Regions from separate parts of the Homo sapiens genome. Here region 2 is reported to be linked to region 1. Evidence: microRNA targets listed by miRTarBase, many of them from high-throughput screens and not tested one by one. Region 1 holds a microRNA gene; the other region holds the end of a gene's coding sequence.

Region 1 (7,717 bases):
CTTGGCACAGCTGGCTGTCTCCTCTCCTTCTTGAAACACAAAGGTGCATTTGCCCTCTGTAACCCTCCTGGTTTCAGCCTACCTCGAGATCACTCCTAAGCTCGTTTTGCTACATCCCCTTCTCCCCCAGATGTAGATGTCCCCAAGGCTCTGGCCAGGGTCGCTTCTCTGTCCCCACCCCCCTGCTAGGCCACGTCACCCAATCCTGTGGCTTTATGTTGACGTTTCCAAAACTTACGTTTTTGAGCCACGGCCTCTCTTTCCCCCAAACTCCAGTCTCACATATCCAACTGGCTATTTGATACCACAACTCGGATTTCTCGAAGGCAGATCTATCTTGACACATCCAAAAGAGAAGCCTTGGTTCCTCCCTCCCAAAGCCACTTTCCTGATCCCAGTCTCCTCGTTCCTGGTAACAATCCTCATCGGTGCCCATCAGAGATGTGCGTGCCCAATTCAGAGAGTTCTTCTCTTCCTGGTTCCTTTTCCTTCCCTCCTCTATGACATCCAGTTCACCACCAATGCAGGCTCTAGCCTCCAAAATCCCATGCCTTCTTCCACTTCCTCCATCCCACTAACTCCACCTTGGTCCAGGCCTCCAGCAACCAGAGGAAGGCAACAGCCCGCTACCTCCTTCCTTCCCCTTTGACTCCTGAAGTCTACGTATGCTCAGCACAGCAATGTAATTCTGCTGTTCTTGTTTAAATAAAAATATGAGGCCGGGCGCAGTGGCTCACTCCTGTAATCCCAGCATTTTGGGAGGCCGAGGCAGGTGGATCATTTGAAGCCAGGAATTTCAGATTGGCCTGGCCAACACGGTGAAATCCCGTCTTTACTAAAAATACAAAAAAATTAGCCAGGCGTGGTGGCACATGCCTGTAATCCCAGCTACTCAGGAGGCTGAGGCAGGAGAATCACTTGAACTTGGGAGGCGGAGGTTGGCAGTGAGCCGAGATCAGCCCACTGGACTCCAGCCTGAGACAGAGCAAGACTCTTTTTCAAAATAAATATAAATAAGAAAATAAAAATATGATCATGGCATGCCTGTGCTCAAAACCCTCCAAGCACTTCCCATCAGATCTAGAATAAAATTCAGATTTCTTCCCAAGGATCCAAGGCCCTAACTGATCAGCCCCTACCCTGTGCCTCTGTCCTATGGTGGATCTGCTCACCGCACAGGCCTCCTCGAAGACCTGCTACTTTTCTGGGCTTTGGGGCTGCCTCTGGTGGGTGGAATGCCTGGCCCCCAGACTTTCTCACCTCTCTTTCCTACTCACAATCCACATCTCTGTGACCTCTGCCACAAGGTCTACTCCAAGGACCTCATCTAAAGTCATCCTTGCTCTGTCATTCTGTTACCACTCACTGTCGCCCAGGCTGGAGTGCAGTGGCGCGATCTCAGCTCACTGCAACCTCTGCCTCCTGGGTTCAAGTGATCCTTCTTTCTCAGCCTCCCAAGTAGCTGGGACTACAGGCACACCAGCACACCCAGCTACTTTATTTATTTATTGGTAGAGATGAAGTTTCACCATGTTGACCAGGCTGGTCTCGAACTCCTGACCTCAAGTGATCCACCAGCCTCGGCCTCCCAAAGTGCTGGGATTACAGGCATGAGCCACTGCGCCCGGCCTTCAGCTTAATTTTTAAAGCACTTTTTGGTTACTGAAATGATATTATTTATTGTTTATCTCTCCAGTGTGTTTCAGGAGAGCAGGCCCTTGTCCGTCTATTTGCCACCACATCCCCTGGCCGAGATTGGGTCTAGAACAGGTTGGCACTCAATAAATATTTCTTGAATACTGGGAAAACAACACACCAGAAATGGAGCATTCCTTGACGCTGCGCTTGCTTCTGAGTCTCCACGTTGCTTTTTGTGCGAATCTCTGAGTCTGTCTCCGGCTTACCTCTCCCTCTCTATCTCTGTCTCTGTGTGTGTTTCTGCTATCTCTGGGACTTCTCTGATTTGTGCACCTGTCAGTCTCTCCTCTTCCTCTTCTCTCTCCTCTGTATCACCTTCCTGTCTTTGACTTTTTCTCTGTCTGTGACTCTACTAGTTTGGTCTCTCCTGCTCTCCCCCTCCCTCCCCATCTTGCTCTTCCTCCTGCCTACCCTCAACCTCATTCTTTCTCTCTCTCTCTCTCTCTCTCTCGTTCTGTTTGGCCTTCAGACTCTAGAATCCATTCTCCCCTAACCAGTTCCCTCTCCCTCTTCCAGCAAATATTTGCTGTCTCTCAATTTTTTTTTTTTTTTTGAGACAGAGTCTCGCTCTTTCGCCCAGGCTGGAGCGCAGTGGTGCCATCACGGGTCACTGCAGCCTCACCCTCCCAGGCCCAAGCGAGATCCTTTCACCTCAGCCTCCTGAGTAGCCGGGACTACAGGCGTGCACCACCACACCCGGCTAATTTTTGTATTTTTGGTAGAGACAAGATTTCAATATGTTGGCTGGTCTGGAACTCCTGAGCTCAATCTGCCTGCCTCAGTCTCCCAAAGTGCTGGGATTAGGAGCCACAGCACCCGGCCAGATTTGTCTCTTTTAACACCCGCTCCGGCATCCCTCTTCTCTCCACGTATCCGTCTCTCTCACTCAGCGCTTCTCCGTCTCACTGATTTGTATTCCTTTTCCTACATTTCCCAGCATCTCTTCCTGAAACCGCCTTGGCAGAATTCTTCCTAGGGACCTTCAGTCTCTCTCTTCCTGGTCCTTCCACACAGGCCTCGGAGAGAAATTCTGAACACCCAGCTCTGATCTGTACCCTTCCGTCAAGAGAAGGGCACGCAGAGCCCCTGGCAGCATGGCACCACCGCTGCCACGTCCTCCTCAAGCTGCGTCTGTGCCTGTTTTCCCGCCAGACTGGGAGCCCCTTGAGAGCAGGGCAAGATCAAAATCACCTCTCCACTCCCAGCACCGCCCAGCACAAGGCTTCGGGGGAGGCCTCAGGAAACACTTGCTGAGCAAATATGGAAGGGAAGCCTACTGGGCGCTGTCCCCTCTGCCTTCTCAGTGAACTTCAAACCCATCCCCTCCAATCACCGCACAGCCCTTGCCCCCGCGCAGCTGTCATCCTCTCTCACCATCCTTAGAAGAGCCTCAGTCCCTCTGCCTGGAACTCAGGCACCTTTTTCTCTTTTTTTCTGAGACAGGATCTCAGTCTGTTGCTCAGGCTGGAGTGTAGTGCCGCGATCCTAGCTCACTGCAGCCTCGAACTCTTGGAGTCAAATGGTCCTCCTCCCTCAGCCTCCTGAGTAGCTGTGTCCACAGGTGTGCTCCACCACGCCCGGCTAATTTTTTTTAATGTTTTGTAGAGACAGGGTTTCGCCATGTTATCCAGGCTGGTCTCAAACTCCTGGGCTCAAGTGATACTCCAGCCTCAGCCTCCCAAAGCGCTGGGATTACAGGCATGAGCCACCGCGCCCGGCCACCCTGGTACCTTTACACTCTAGCTTGTGGCTACTTTCCCGGCCTCATCTCCCAGCCCCACCTTGTACATCAGCATCCCAGAACTGTTAGCACTGACCCCAATACATCATGCTCGTTCACTTCCTCCCGTTTTCACCCAAGTTGTTCTTTGGCCCCACAAGCCTTTCTCATGCCTTTCATCAACCAGAAGATGCCCACTCATTTCTTCAAGACCCAGAATGGGCATCATATTCTCCAGGAAGCCTACCCCAAGTGCTGCTCACTCCTGGCAGTTGGTCACTCTGTCCACCGTGTGCCACGGTACCCACGGTGGTCCGGGTTCCAGCACCGATTGCCCTGCCTGGATGGCGGTGTTTGATGACAATAAACTGCTTGAGAGCAGGGCTAGAGTCTGTTTCACCCCTGGGGATCTGGATCCTAACACACTTCCTGGTACCTTAGCAGATGGCCAAAAATGGCAATGGGTGAGTGGCTGAATGAACGAGTGACAGACACATGAGTCTCTAAGCCCCACGGCTTTCTCCTGCACACCAGACACCATGACTATGCTTCAGCATCTGTGTAATTACGTGCTTCCTCCCACAAGAGTGTGAGCTCCAAGGGCCCGTGCCCATGTTTGATGCTGTATTTCAGCACATCTCTGCCTCCTACTCTTGCCTCCGAGTTCCTGTCTTCCCTTTGTACACCATTCACGTTAGCGTCCTGCTTAAACCCGTTCCACGGCCCTCACCACTCCTAGAATAAAATCTGAACTCCTGACCTACGAGCCCCTGCACAATCTGGCCCTGTCTGTGTCTCCGGCCTCACCTTGATCCCCGCTCACCTGCCTCACTACCCTTCAGCCCTCGCTGCAAGCTCCTTCCTGCCCCGGGGCCTTTGCACGTGCTGCTCTGCCTGCCACACTCCTGCCCCAGCTCCGCCCTGCTGGCTTCTTCTCATCCTTTCACTGTCCACTGAAATCTCTTCCTCACAACTGGGTTAGGCTCCCCTGATGGAGCATTTCATAGCATCTCGTTTCTCCTATAGCCTAACTGTAATTTATTGTGTATGTACATGATCGATTAATGCCTGTCTCATGCACAAGATGTTTACTCTATGAGACGTCGGGGCCCCTGGCTGTTTTCCTGCCTCCTGCACGCTGAGCACGGAGCACAATGCCTAGCTTTTTAAGGCGCACAAATAAATTGCCGGTAATGAATGAATGAATGAGAAGGCCCTTTCTGTGCCTCGTTCGTGTCCCCTGCTCCAATGCCTTCTTATGTACCAGTGCCTGGTACACAGTAGGTGCTTAATAAGCCCTTGTGGAATAATGAATGAAAAAAATGAATGAATGCCCGCGTCCAACCCTTCTTTCTGCCTTTCTGCATCCCTTCGCTGTGTCTCTTTATATAGGGCATATATATAGTTTGTGGGTGTAACTATGTATTCGTGTATTATGGGCCCCTCTCCAGGAGTTGGGCTGGGCTGGGAGTCCCTCCCTCCCCTCCCCCCGCCCCGCCCCCCATGCACACAGCAAAACATGAAAAAGAAAACATCTCGAAACTGCAAAAAACACCATGGCCCTCCCCCCTCCCCATAGATCCCCCAAAAAAATAAAACACGACGCTCCCTCACAGCGGCCCCCTCCCTCCCCTGCCCCCTCCCTCGGGGTCCCTGCTTCGGAGGGGGAGGGGGGCGGGGAGGGTGGGCGTGGGGCGGGCCCAGCAGTCTCCAGCGCGCTCACGGGGGAAAGCGGGGGCGCCCCCGACCCCGGCAGCCTCGATGCACGCGCGCCCGCGCACGCGCCCCGGACACGCCCCTCGGCTCCCCCGCCGCGCCCCTACACAGGCGTGGTTTTCCTGTTGAGCGTGTTGGTGTTGGAGGCGGCGGCCTCCTTGGCCAGGGTCCCGGGGGCGGGCGCAGAGGGCGCGGGTGGCGCGGGCGCGGGCGGGGCGGGCGGCCCGGTGACCGTGACCGTGACGCCGCCGCCCGCCTCCTTGGGGAAGGCGTTGTGCAGCGTGAGGAAGCCGGACGCCCCCCCGCGGTCCCGCTCGGCACCCGCCCCGCCGCCGCCTCCGCCGCCGCCCCCGGCGCCCCCGGCCGCGCCGCCGAACGCCCCCACGGCGCCGCCGCCGCCGCCGCCGGCCCCCGCCAGCCCCGCGGCCACGCTGCCCTTGGAGGGGTCGCGGCTGAGCGTGTACATGGAGATGTCCGTGGAGGCAAAGCCCGGGCCCCCGGGGCCGCCGGGAGACGCGTCCCGCGACGGCGACGGCTCGCTGGAGCGGGAGCTAGAGCGGGAGCGGCGGCGGTAGCGGAAGCGGTAACTGGGCAGACGGAGGATGGCCGAGGGGCCGCTCCCGCCACTGCCGCCCGCGCCCCCGCCGGCCTTGAGCAGGTCCGAGCGAGACTGGCAGTGCGCCTCGCGGCTGCGCTCGATGTAGATGTTGACGGCCAGCACGCCTATCACCTCGGCCAGGATGAACGACAGCCCGCCGAAGTAGAAGGACCAGCCGTACGAGTAGTGGTTTTTCTTCTCCTCGTCCCGCTTCGGGCCCGGCTCGCCCGCGTTGGCGGAGATGTACACGATCACGCCGATGATGTTGCTCAGGCCTGGGCGGGGACGGTCAGACGGGAGCCTCGAGGCCACCCCCGGCCCCGCCCCCGCCCCCGGCCCCGACCCCTGCCCGCCTGCGCCAGCGGGCCCAGGCGCCACCCCCAGGCGGTCTAGGCCCCACCCCGAGTGGTCTAGACCCCCGTCCTGGATCTGGCTGACCCAAGTCCTGCCAGAAGTGAACACAACTCCCCGCCCGATGCTCTAGGCGCTTCCCTGCTGGTCTAAGCTCCAACCCAGAGGGCTCCGGCCCACTCTTAGCTGGCCCAGGCCTCACCTCTGCTGGTCTAATCCAACCCCGGCTGGTCGAAACTCCATCCCCCAGGTGGTGTAGGGCCGCCAATGGTCCAGACTGCATCATGCGTGGTCCTGGCCCAGGCAGGCTCAAGCACCCCCTCAGATGGTCTAAATTCCACCCCCAGGTGGTCCAGGCCCTGCCCTGAATGGTCCAGACACGGCCCTGGATGGTCCAGGTCCTGCCCCCAGATAGCCCACGGCCCACCTCTGCCGGTCTAACCCAGCCCTGGCTGGTCTAAACTCTGCCCCAGGTGGTCTAGGACCCACCCCCAGATGGTCTGGGCTGCCCCCACATGGCATAAACCCCACTCCTCTAGCTAAGGTCCCAACTCTGCTGGTCTAAACCCCACCCTGGCTGGTGGTAACTCCACCCCAAGCGGTCCAGGCCCCACCCCTAGGTGGCCTAAGCCCCACTCCCAGCGAGTCCAGGCCCTGCCCTGACTGGTCTAAAACCCACCTTTGATGAGATGAGTTTCCAGGCCCTGCCCTAGTTAGTCTACCTCCACCCTTAACGTTATAAACCTGGGTTTTTCCCAAGCCTCATCCCTCTGCTCCTTTGAACTCTGTTAATGATGTCATCCTGCTGTGATCAGGCCCTGCCTTTCACTTATCTAATCTCTCTTCATATAATTCCTGCCGGAGTATCCATTCTAGGCCCTCCCCTACTGGTCAAAAATTTGCCTTTAATAAAGCAGGCCCCGCCTTCTACTCTAGGCCCCACCTCCAGCTTACCAAACCCCGCCCCGTGCGGATCTTGGCCAGGGTCCTTGCCGGTCTCGGGTCCTTGCCGGTCTCAGGTCCAGCTACTCCGGCCTTTCAGATCCTCCAAGCCCCACCCCTTGCAGATCTAGACCCATCCCCAAAGCACACCCTGCTCTTCAAATATGCAAAGCCCTCCCTCTTCTCTGTATTCTACTCCTCCAAAAAAGCTCTGCCCCTGGAATTTCCCAATGCTACTCATACGGGGTAGAAAGGGGGCCTTACCCCTTAATTGCGTGCCTCTTAAGTGTTCCAGTCCTAGCTCTCTGCTCGTCTAGGCCCTAGCTCTTGAGACGGCCAATCCCAGGTACTGACTGGCTTTGGTCGGCCTCTTGCTTCAATCAGCCAGGTTGATTCTCTGTGCCCTTAAGGACATAACCCCTCCCCCTTTGGCTTTTCCAGGCATCGCCCCGTCTTTTCTAGCCTCTCCTTCTCCAAATGGCCACGGGCAAGGGCCGATTCAGTCTCCCTTACCCAGCCCCTTTAGTTTCCACTTCCCGGCCCTGGACGGTTTCCCAGGACCAGCCCCCTCTTGGATCCACCAAAGTCTCCAAAGGCCCGCCCCTTAAAGCAGGCTCCTCATCGGCGCTCAGATCACTTTCTACCTCTCCTGGGCCCGCCCTCCAAGACCCAGCCCCGCCTCTCTATCCTCA
Region 2 (7,413 bases), not on the chromosome of region 1:
CAGTGAGACTCTACCTCAAAAAAAAAAAAAAAAAGATAAATAAAGCCTAGTGCTTCAAATTCATTTAGAAGACCCTGCGAGGCCGGGCGTGGTGGCTCGCGCCTGTAACCCCAGCACTTTGGGTGGCTGAGGCAGGTGGATCACCTGAGGTCAGGAGTTCAAGACCAGCTGGTCAACATGGTGAAACCTCATCTCTACTAAAAATACAAAAATTAGCCGGACATGGTGGCGCACGGTTGTGATTGTCCGGAGGCTGAGGCAGGAGAATTGCTTGAACCCAGGAGGCAGAGGTTGCAGTGAGCCGAGATCACACCACTGCACTCCAGCCTGGGTGACAGAGTGAGATTCCATCTCAAAAAAAGAAAAAAAAAACCCCAAAACCCTGAGAATCACCTCTTCCTTACAGCATCTTGTTACTTCCTGTCCTCAAGAGGGCGCAGCTTCCTGTAGAAACCTTTTGGCCCAAGGATAGGCAGTGATTTTTTTTTTTTTTTTTTTTTTTTTGAGACGGTGTCTTGCTTTGTCGCTCAGGCTGGACTGCAGTGGTGCAATCTCAGCTCATTGCAACCTCCACCTTCCAGGTTCAAGCGATTCTTGTGCCTCAGACTCCCAAGTAGCTAGGATTACAGGTGTGTACCACCATCCCTGGCTAATTTTTGTATTTTTAGTAGAGATGGTTTCACCATGTGGGCTAGGCTGGTCTTGAACTCCTGGCCTCAAGCAATCCACTTGCCTTGGCCTCCCAAAGTGCTGGAATTACAGGTGTGAGCCACCACGCCTGGCCTATAGGCAGTGATCTTTTAATACAAGGTTCAACTAGGACTTGAGTAAAGGCCAAGTTATATTAAGTAATGGGAATTTAGGTAATCTGCTCTTAGGCACTGACCTAATTGTGTGGAGCTCCTGCCCAGGAAATGGCAATTCTCATATTTTAATATGAGAATATTAAAATATGGTGATAAGGCCCATTTTCTGACACCATCTGTTTAATTTTAACCCCAGGAAATTCTGAAACAGCCACACCTACAAATGTAGACTTGCCTCAGGTCATCCCCAAGTCTGAGAACAGCAGCCAGCCAGCCAAGAAAGCCAAGGGGGCTGCAAAGACAAAGCAGCAGCTGCAGAAACAGCAACATCCCAAGAAGGCCTCCTTCCAGAAGCTGAATGGCATCTCCAAAGGGGCAGACTCAGAATTGTCCACTGTACCTTCTGTCACAAAGACCCAAGCTTCCTCCAGCTTCCAGGATAGCAGTCAGCCAGCTGGAAAAGCCGAAGGGATCAGGGAGCCAAAGGTGACTGGGAAGCTAAAGCAACGATCACCTAAATTACAGTCCTCCAAGAAAGTTGCTTTCCTCAGGCAGAATGCCCCTCCCAAGGGCACAGACACACAAACACCGGCTGTGTTATCCCCATCCAAGACTCAGGCCACCCTGAAACCTAAGGACCATCATCAGCCCCTTGGAAGGGCCAAGGGGGTTGAGAAGCAGCAGTTGCCAGAGCAGCCTTTTGAGAAAGCTGCCTTCCAGAAACAGAATGATACCCCCAAGGGGCCTCAGCCTCCCACTGTGTCTCCCATCCGTTCCAGCCGCCCCCCACCAGCAAAGAGGAAGAAATCTCAGTCCAGGGGCAACAGCCAGCTGCTGCTATCTTAGATGGTTGAAAACTAGACGGGTGGCTCACTGCCATTGTCACCAGGTTGGAACTCTTGCCTCTGTGAGGATGCCTTCTCTACTGTGCATACCCATGAAATTTAATACACATTTTAAAACCTCTGGCCACTGAGTATTTTTGAGGGAACTGGGTGCTGCCTTTGCCGCTTTAAGGGTAAAGATGGGAGGTGGGACTGGGATCTTCTGAGGAGAGGGAATGGTTGGGTGCTACTGAGAAATAAGGTCAGTTTTAGGCTCCTGCATCCTTGGGTTTTCCCAGGAAGGGAAAGCCCTGGAGTCAGAGCTAGGGGTGATTGAACTCCGGGGAGAGGAGGGCAATAGAAGTGTAGGGGAAGGCGGGGCACACTAGCTCATGCCTGTAATCCCAGCACTTTCTGGGAGGCCAAGGCGGGTGGATCACCTGAGGTCAGGTGTTCGAGACCAGCCTGGCTAACATGGCGAAACCTCGTCTCTACTAAAAATACAAAAAATCAGCCGGGTGTGGTGGCGGGTGCCTGTAATCCCAGCTACTCGGGAGACTGAAGCAGGAGAATCGCTTGAACCTGGGAGGCTGAGGTTGCAGTGAGCCAAGATCGCGCCACTGCACTCCAGCCCGGGCGACAGTGAGACTCGGTCTCAAAAAAAAAAAAAGTCGTGTAGGGGAGATGGGCTTGCCACCAGAACCCATGGGGTACTGGAGGTCCTGGGCTTTACGCCACCCCGGCTGGAGTCCAGGCGGTGGCTCCCCTCATCACAGGGCTCGGCCTCAGACCCGGAAAGGTCCAGGGTCCGGCCTCCAATTGGAGCCTGTCATTGGCTTCCCCTCGGCCCGCCCCCTGACCTCTGCCCCGCTGCCGAGCCGCCTGATTGGTCGGCTCTGTCCCGCCGGCGCCGCATTGGCTCTTCTGGCTCGCCTTCCATCCCTGCTCCTGCACCGGTCTGCATCTCCCAGCAGAAGGCGCAGCCATGAATCCGTTATTCGGCCCCAACCTCTTCCTCCTGCAGCAGGAGCAGCAGGGCCTGGCCGGGCCACTGGGGGACTCACTGGGAGGCGACCACTTCGCCGGGGGAGGAGACTTGCCCCCGGCGCCTCTCTCGCCGGCCGGCCCTGCTGCCTACTCGCCGCCCGGGCCGGGCCCGGCCCCGCCTGCCGCCATGGCCCTCCGCAATGACCTGGGCTCCAACATCAACGTGCTCAAGACCCTGAACCTCCGGTTCCGCTGCTTCCTGGCCAAGGTGCATGAGCTGGAGCGCCGGAACCGGCTGTTGGAGAAGCAACTGCAGCAAGCGCTGGAGGAGGGTAAGCAGGGCCGGCGGGGCCTGGGTCGTCGCGACCAGGCAGTGCAGACCGGCTTCGTCAGCCCCATCCGGCCCCTGGGGCTGCAGCTGGGCGCCCGGCCGGCCGCTGTCTGCAGCCCTTCGGCGCGCGTGCTGGGCTCGCCCGCGCGCTCCCCGGCCGGCCCCCTCGCGCCCTCCGCGGCCAGCCTCTCGTCGTCCTCCACCTCCACCTCCACCACCTATTCCTCGTCGGCCCGCTTCATGCCCGGCACCATCTGGTCGTTCTCGCACGCCCGCCGGCTCGGGCCGGGACTGGAGCCCACTCTGGTGCAAGGGCCTGGCTTGTCGTGGGTGCACCCGGATGGGGTGGGCGTCCAGATCGACACCATCACGCCCGAGATCCGCGCTCTCTACAACGTGCTGGCCAAAGTGAAGCGGGAGCGGGACGAGTACAAGCGGAGGTAGGGATTGGGAAAGGGGGACAGGTCTCTCTGTGTCATACCACTCACAACGGGCCGCGAGTTGGTGTGGGTTCCGAAGAATCAGGGGTGAAAAGAATGAGAGTAAAGTTTGTGCTGTGTAATGAGGAGCTTGGAAGCAATTGGATGCAGGGAGACTAGAATCCGCAGAGAATGCAGAAGCCCTGCTCGTGACAGGAAGAAGGACGCTGGGAGCGGAACACGGGGGGATTCCTACTTTTCCGGCTTGTCTCTGCCATCCAGGCTTAACTGCGGGTTTTGTGCGGTGTGAAAGGGACTGGGGCTCTGCCCTACCGGTCTCAGCCCTGGGGCAGGTTAGGGATATAAACTTCAAAAGTAGGAGGCAAGGATATAGCGTAAATTTGGGAGACTAAATTGAGTGAAACTGGAAGGGGCTGGTGAGGGAGGGGCTGTACCTTGCAACGAGTGATTCTTTCACACCCCAAGGTTTCCCAAAGAATATTGATGGAAACCAGGTACCTGCTGTGGTTTCATAGGAAAAGCTCCGGGACCTCAAGCCATTGCTTGAGTAGGTCAACAAACTGGGAAAAGAAAGAGTGAAGGGAATTCACTAGGGTGAGGGTGGAGAGCAGGGCTGACAGGGGAATCTTGGCAGTATAAAGCGCCAGTGGGGAGGGAGAGTGGAGAGCCAGCAGGGGACTGAGCAGGGAGAAGCTGGGATATGGGCCCTCCCTAGGACCGCGAGGCCGCGGGGCGGGCCCGGTGCATTCTGTGGATGAAGATTTGGCTGTCTGAGAGGAGCCCGGCCCCAAGGGGCAAGGGAAAGGGATGTGATGCCAGGAGTGCTGGCTGTATACCAAGTGGATTCCTTAGATGGCTGATAACCAAGCCGATAGGACAGGAGTGAGAGCAGAGGTAGTGTCTTGCAGACTCCAACCCAAGCCTTGAGGAGGGAGCGGGTGACTGACAGGCTTTGGTTTGGCGGCCTCCCCTCTCATCTCAGCTATTATGACCCCTTGTGGGCGGGCCTGGGAACTACCTATGCAGCCCAGTGTGGCGGAGATTCAGCACTGGGTGAGGATTGGCCGAATGTTCTAGGAAATGACCGCTGGGTCTAGGGGCGACCTTCAGGGATCTCCACCCTGCTGGAGTTTACCAGATCACAGATCAGCAGGCTTTCTTTTTTTTTTTTTCCCATAAATGATAATATTTTATTATAGAAAAAGCATCCCAAATACAGGATTTCGTAAACACTGGTAGGTGAACAAGTGCAATTTTAGAAGTAAATGCAAAGTAAAGAGGCAAAACCTACAAGCATTTTGCCTTCAGAAGAAGATGTAGTGTTCTCCTGCACTAGTGATCCCACCCAGAACACAAATGTGGCTCTGTCTCCCGTGAAAGCATCAGATTTGCTTTCTGAGCTCAGTATGCCCATTTCAATAATTGCAAAGTGATGGCAAGAAGTGGCGTTGAACACATGACTACAGACCCTTGACTTAAAATATTGAGACAGGGACTTGCTCTGTCATCCGGGCTGGAGTGCAGTAGCGTCATCACAGCTCACTGCAGCCTCATCCTCCTGGGCTCAAGCAATCATCCTGCCTCAGCCTCTTGAGTAGCTGGGACTACAGGTGTGCACTACCATGTCCATGCCTGGCTATTTTTTTTTTTTCTTTTTGCGTTGTCCAGGCCAGTCTCAAACTCCTGACCTGATCAGCAGGCTTTCTGAGCTTGAGTCCTGTCCTCGTGCTGGCTTCCTTAGTTGTGGTCCATGTTATGTGTCCTTGGGAGTTTCAGTTGTCCTGAAATCATCGTTCTGCCACCCAGAACCAGCCTGCTCTGCCCCTGCAGGAGTTAACTACGCGCTCAGCAGTGGCACAGGCACAGTTCTGGAATACATCCATAACCACAGGAACAACTGCTGTTCTCAGGAGCATTTTTTTTTTAAACTGAAGGAGCGTTTGTCCTTGGTCCAGCTGTCCAGGACAGGAAGGAGTTATTCCTTGGGGACTGATTAGCTCATCGCTCTGCAGCACGCTGCTGTGTAGAGAGCCTTAGCTGGATTCGGATGGTGCGTGATACTGGCAGTGACTCTTCTTCCTCCCTAGATTCCCTGCCCTCATTCTGGTCTCTTTATAGCAACACTGTAACTCCTGTCTTCTGCCTGGAAGGCCTGGGATGGCTTGAGCGCTACACTGGGAGGTAGCTAAAGGCCTCCTGCGTTCTATTTTCAGCTCCCCTGCCTTGTGCGTGACCTTTTTTTGAGCCCCCATTTTCCCAACATAGGAATGGTCCCTGCTTTCTCTCTTCAACCCAGGGATACAGTTTTTTGGAAGAGAGATATTTGGTCCATGCAGAACACATGGATATCGCTCTCAAATTCTGCCCATGTTAAGGGAACCTTATAAGTGAGACCAGATGGAAATGGAGGTGAAAATGAACCTGTCTGTGTGAAGTCTGGCCAAAGAACAAATAGAACTGTAGTGGGCTTCCAGATGATTCATTTGTAGATTTTTTTTACCCTGTAAGATTTCCTTAGGCTTAACCTTTAGCTATAACTGCCTTACTTAAGTTTCTTCCAGGCTCTGTTGAGCTCACTGTCAGATAGCCCCTCCTGCCCTCTTTCACACATCTTGTCCAGGGTTAGCGTGCCCTTGACAGGCTTACTGTCTCCCTCCAGGGACTCGTGGGCTCCCGGCGCATGAGGGCACCACAGTTCATGCCTTCACATCATAGATGAAGAAACCAAGACCCAGAAAAGATAAGGGTCTTAGCTAAGAAAACATAATCTGATGCGACTGGTTCCCTTAGTGGCCTGACTGTATGCATGAGAATGCCAGGGAGGAGGGGAGAAGCACCTACGGGACACACAGGGAAGGGGGCTGGGAGCCAGGAAGGCTGGGAGCTGGGCTGTGTGGGGAGCCAGCAGGGTGGTGGCTGGGCTGGCTGCCTCCTCCTGCTCTGCCCAGCAGGGAGGGGCAGTCGAGGTGATGTGGAGGAGTTATTATTAGGAATACTGCAGTGCGGCTGTGAATGAGGAGATGGGACCCAGAGGCTGACACAGGAAGGAAGATGGAGGGAAGGGGAAGAAAGGGCTTCACCCAAGGCTTCAGAAGCTGCCCACTCAGATTTTAATTTTCTTGCTGTCTTCTTGGCCCCTTCCTAACCACCTTTCTTGTGTTGAAGTTTCTCTCTTGGTGCAGTTCCCCTCCCTTCTCGGGTTGACAGAAGTGATGAGCTCACAGGAACAGGATTTGAGATGTGCTGCTACGCCAGCTAGACTGCAGGGCCCTGGAATGCCGGGCGGGTCCTAAGCAGCACGTTGCCCTGGCTTCCATCTCTGTGATGGAATAGAATATGCACTGCCTGCCATGGCTGATGAGACATGACAAAGCTGGCTCTGGGAAGCATGCCCTACCTAGGACCCTGCCCTGTGGCCCAGGGTGTCGTCCGGCCCACTTGCAGTCTTAATCTCTGAATTCTGGGCCCTGGAACAGGCTGTGTCTAGTTCTCATTTGCCGTACTCACCGGGCCCCTTTACATACTCTACTTTCTCTTTCCCTCTGGGTTTGAGTGCTAGTAACCCCAGGCTCGTGTGTCCACTGCTGTCATGCTGCTGTGGGACTTCCGGCCTCTGAGCCAGTCTGGTCACCTCTCTGTGACTCCCTTAGAGGAGGCTCTGGGTGGGTAGTTTCTGGAGCTAGTGGGGAAGGACTTTGAGTGTCTCCTACCAGGCTCTTGACCCACTCTGTTGATACACTATGTGTCCTGCAGATGCTTTTACAGGGTTAAATGATACCACAAGAGGCAGGGCAGCGGGCTCGACGAGCTCTGTTCTGGTGCGGGCAGGAGGCGGGAGCCCGGATCTGTGCGACTGAAGGTGGGAGACTGGGCCGGGTGGACCTGGTGGTCTGGTGTGGGCAGGAGGTGGGCAATGAGGCCAGCCGGACAGCTGGCTGAGCTGGGGCCTGAGCAGGGATGGGCATCACGGAGGACCGGAGCCTCAGCACTTGCCCAAACAGAGCTCCTGGTGCACAGCCCGGAGG

What was found. The annotated mature microRNA hsa-miR-935 reads CCAGUUACCGCUUCCGCUACCGC and lies in region 1 at 5,703-5,725, opposite strand. An mRNA with a match to its seed (bases 2 to 7 or 8) in the 3' UTR can be bound and repressed. Matches are read on the target gene's strand: a 7mer-m8 pairs with bases 2 to 8, a 7mer-A1 pairs with bases 2 to 7 and ends in A, and an 8mer does both.
Region 2: the mRNA of NOP2 is a reported target of hsa-miR-935. The part of its 3' UTR that is shown has no 7-base or 8-base seed match.

Annotation. Positions count from the first base shown.
Region 1 is chr19:53,980,370-53,988,086 of GRCh38, reverse strand. It overlaps MIR935 (microRNA 935), which reads right to left and starts at 5,780; the gene lies at 5,690-5,780. CACNG8 (calcium voltage-gated channel auxiliary subunit gamma 8) reads right to left here. Exons shown (of 4, transcript NM_031895.6): 4 at 1-6,007. The coding sequence ends at 5,238. RefSeq lists an enhancer at 7,572-7,717.
Region 2 is chr12:6,551,232-6,558,644 of GRCh38, reverse strand. NOP2 (NOP2 nucleolar protein) reads left to right here. Exons shown (of 16, transcript NM_001258308.2): 16 at 1,003-1,774. The coding sequence ends at 1,652. IFFO1 (intermediate filament family orphan 1) reads left to right here and starts at 2,603. Exons shown (of 10, transcript NM_001193457.2): 1 at 2,603-3,388. The coding sequence starts at 2,616. RefSeq lists silencers at 2,426-2,585, 2,636-2,875, 2,986-3,165 and enhancers at 3,626-4,126, 4,127-4,627, 6,259-6,776, 7,049-7,413.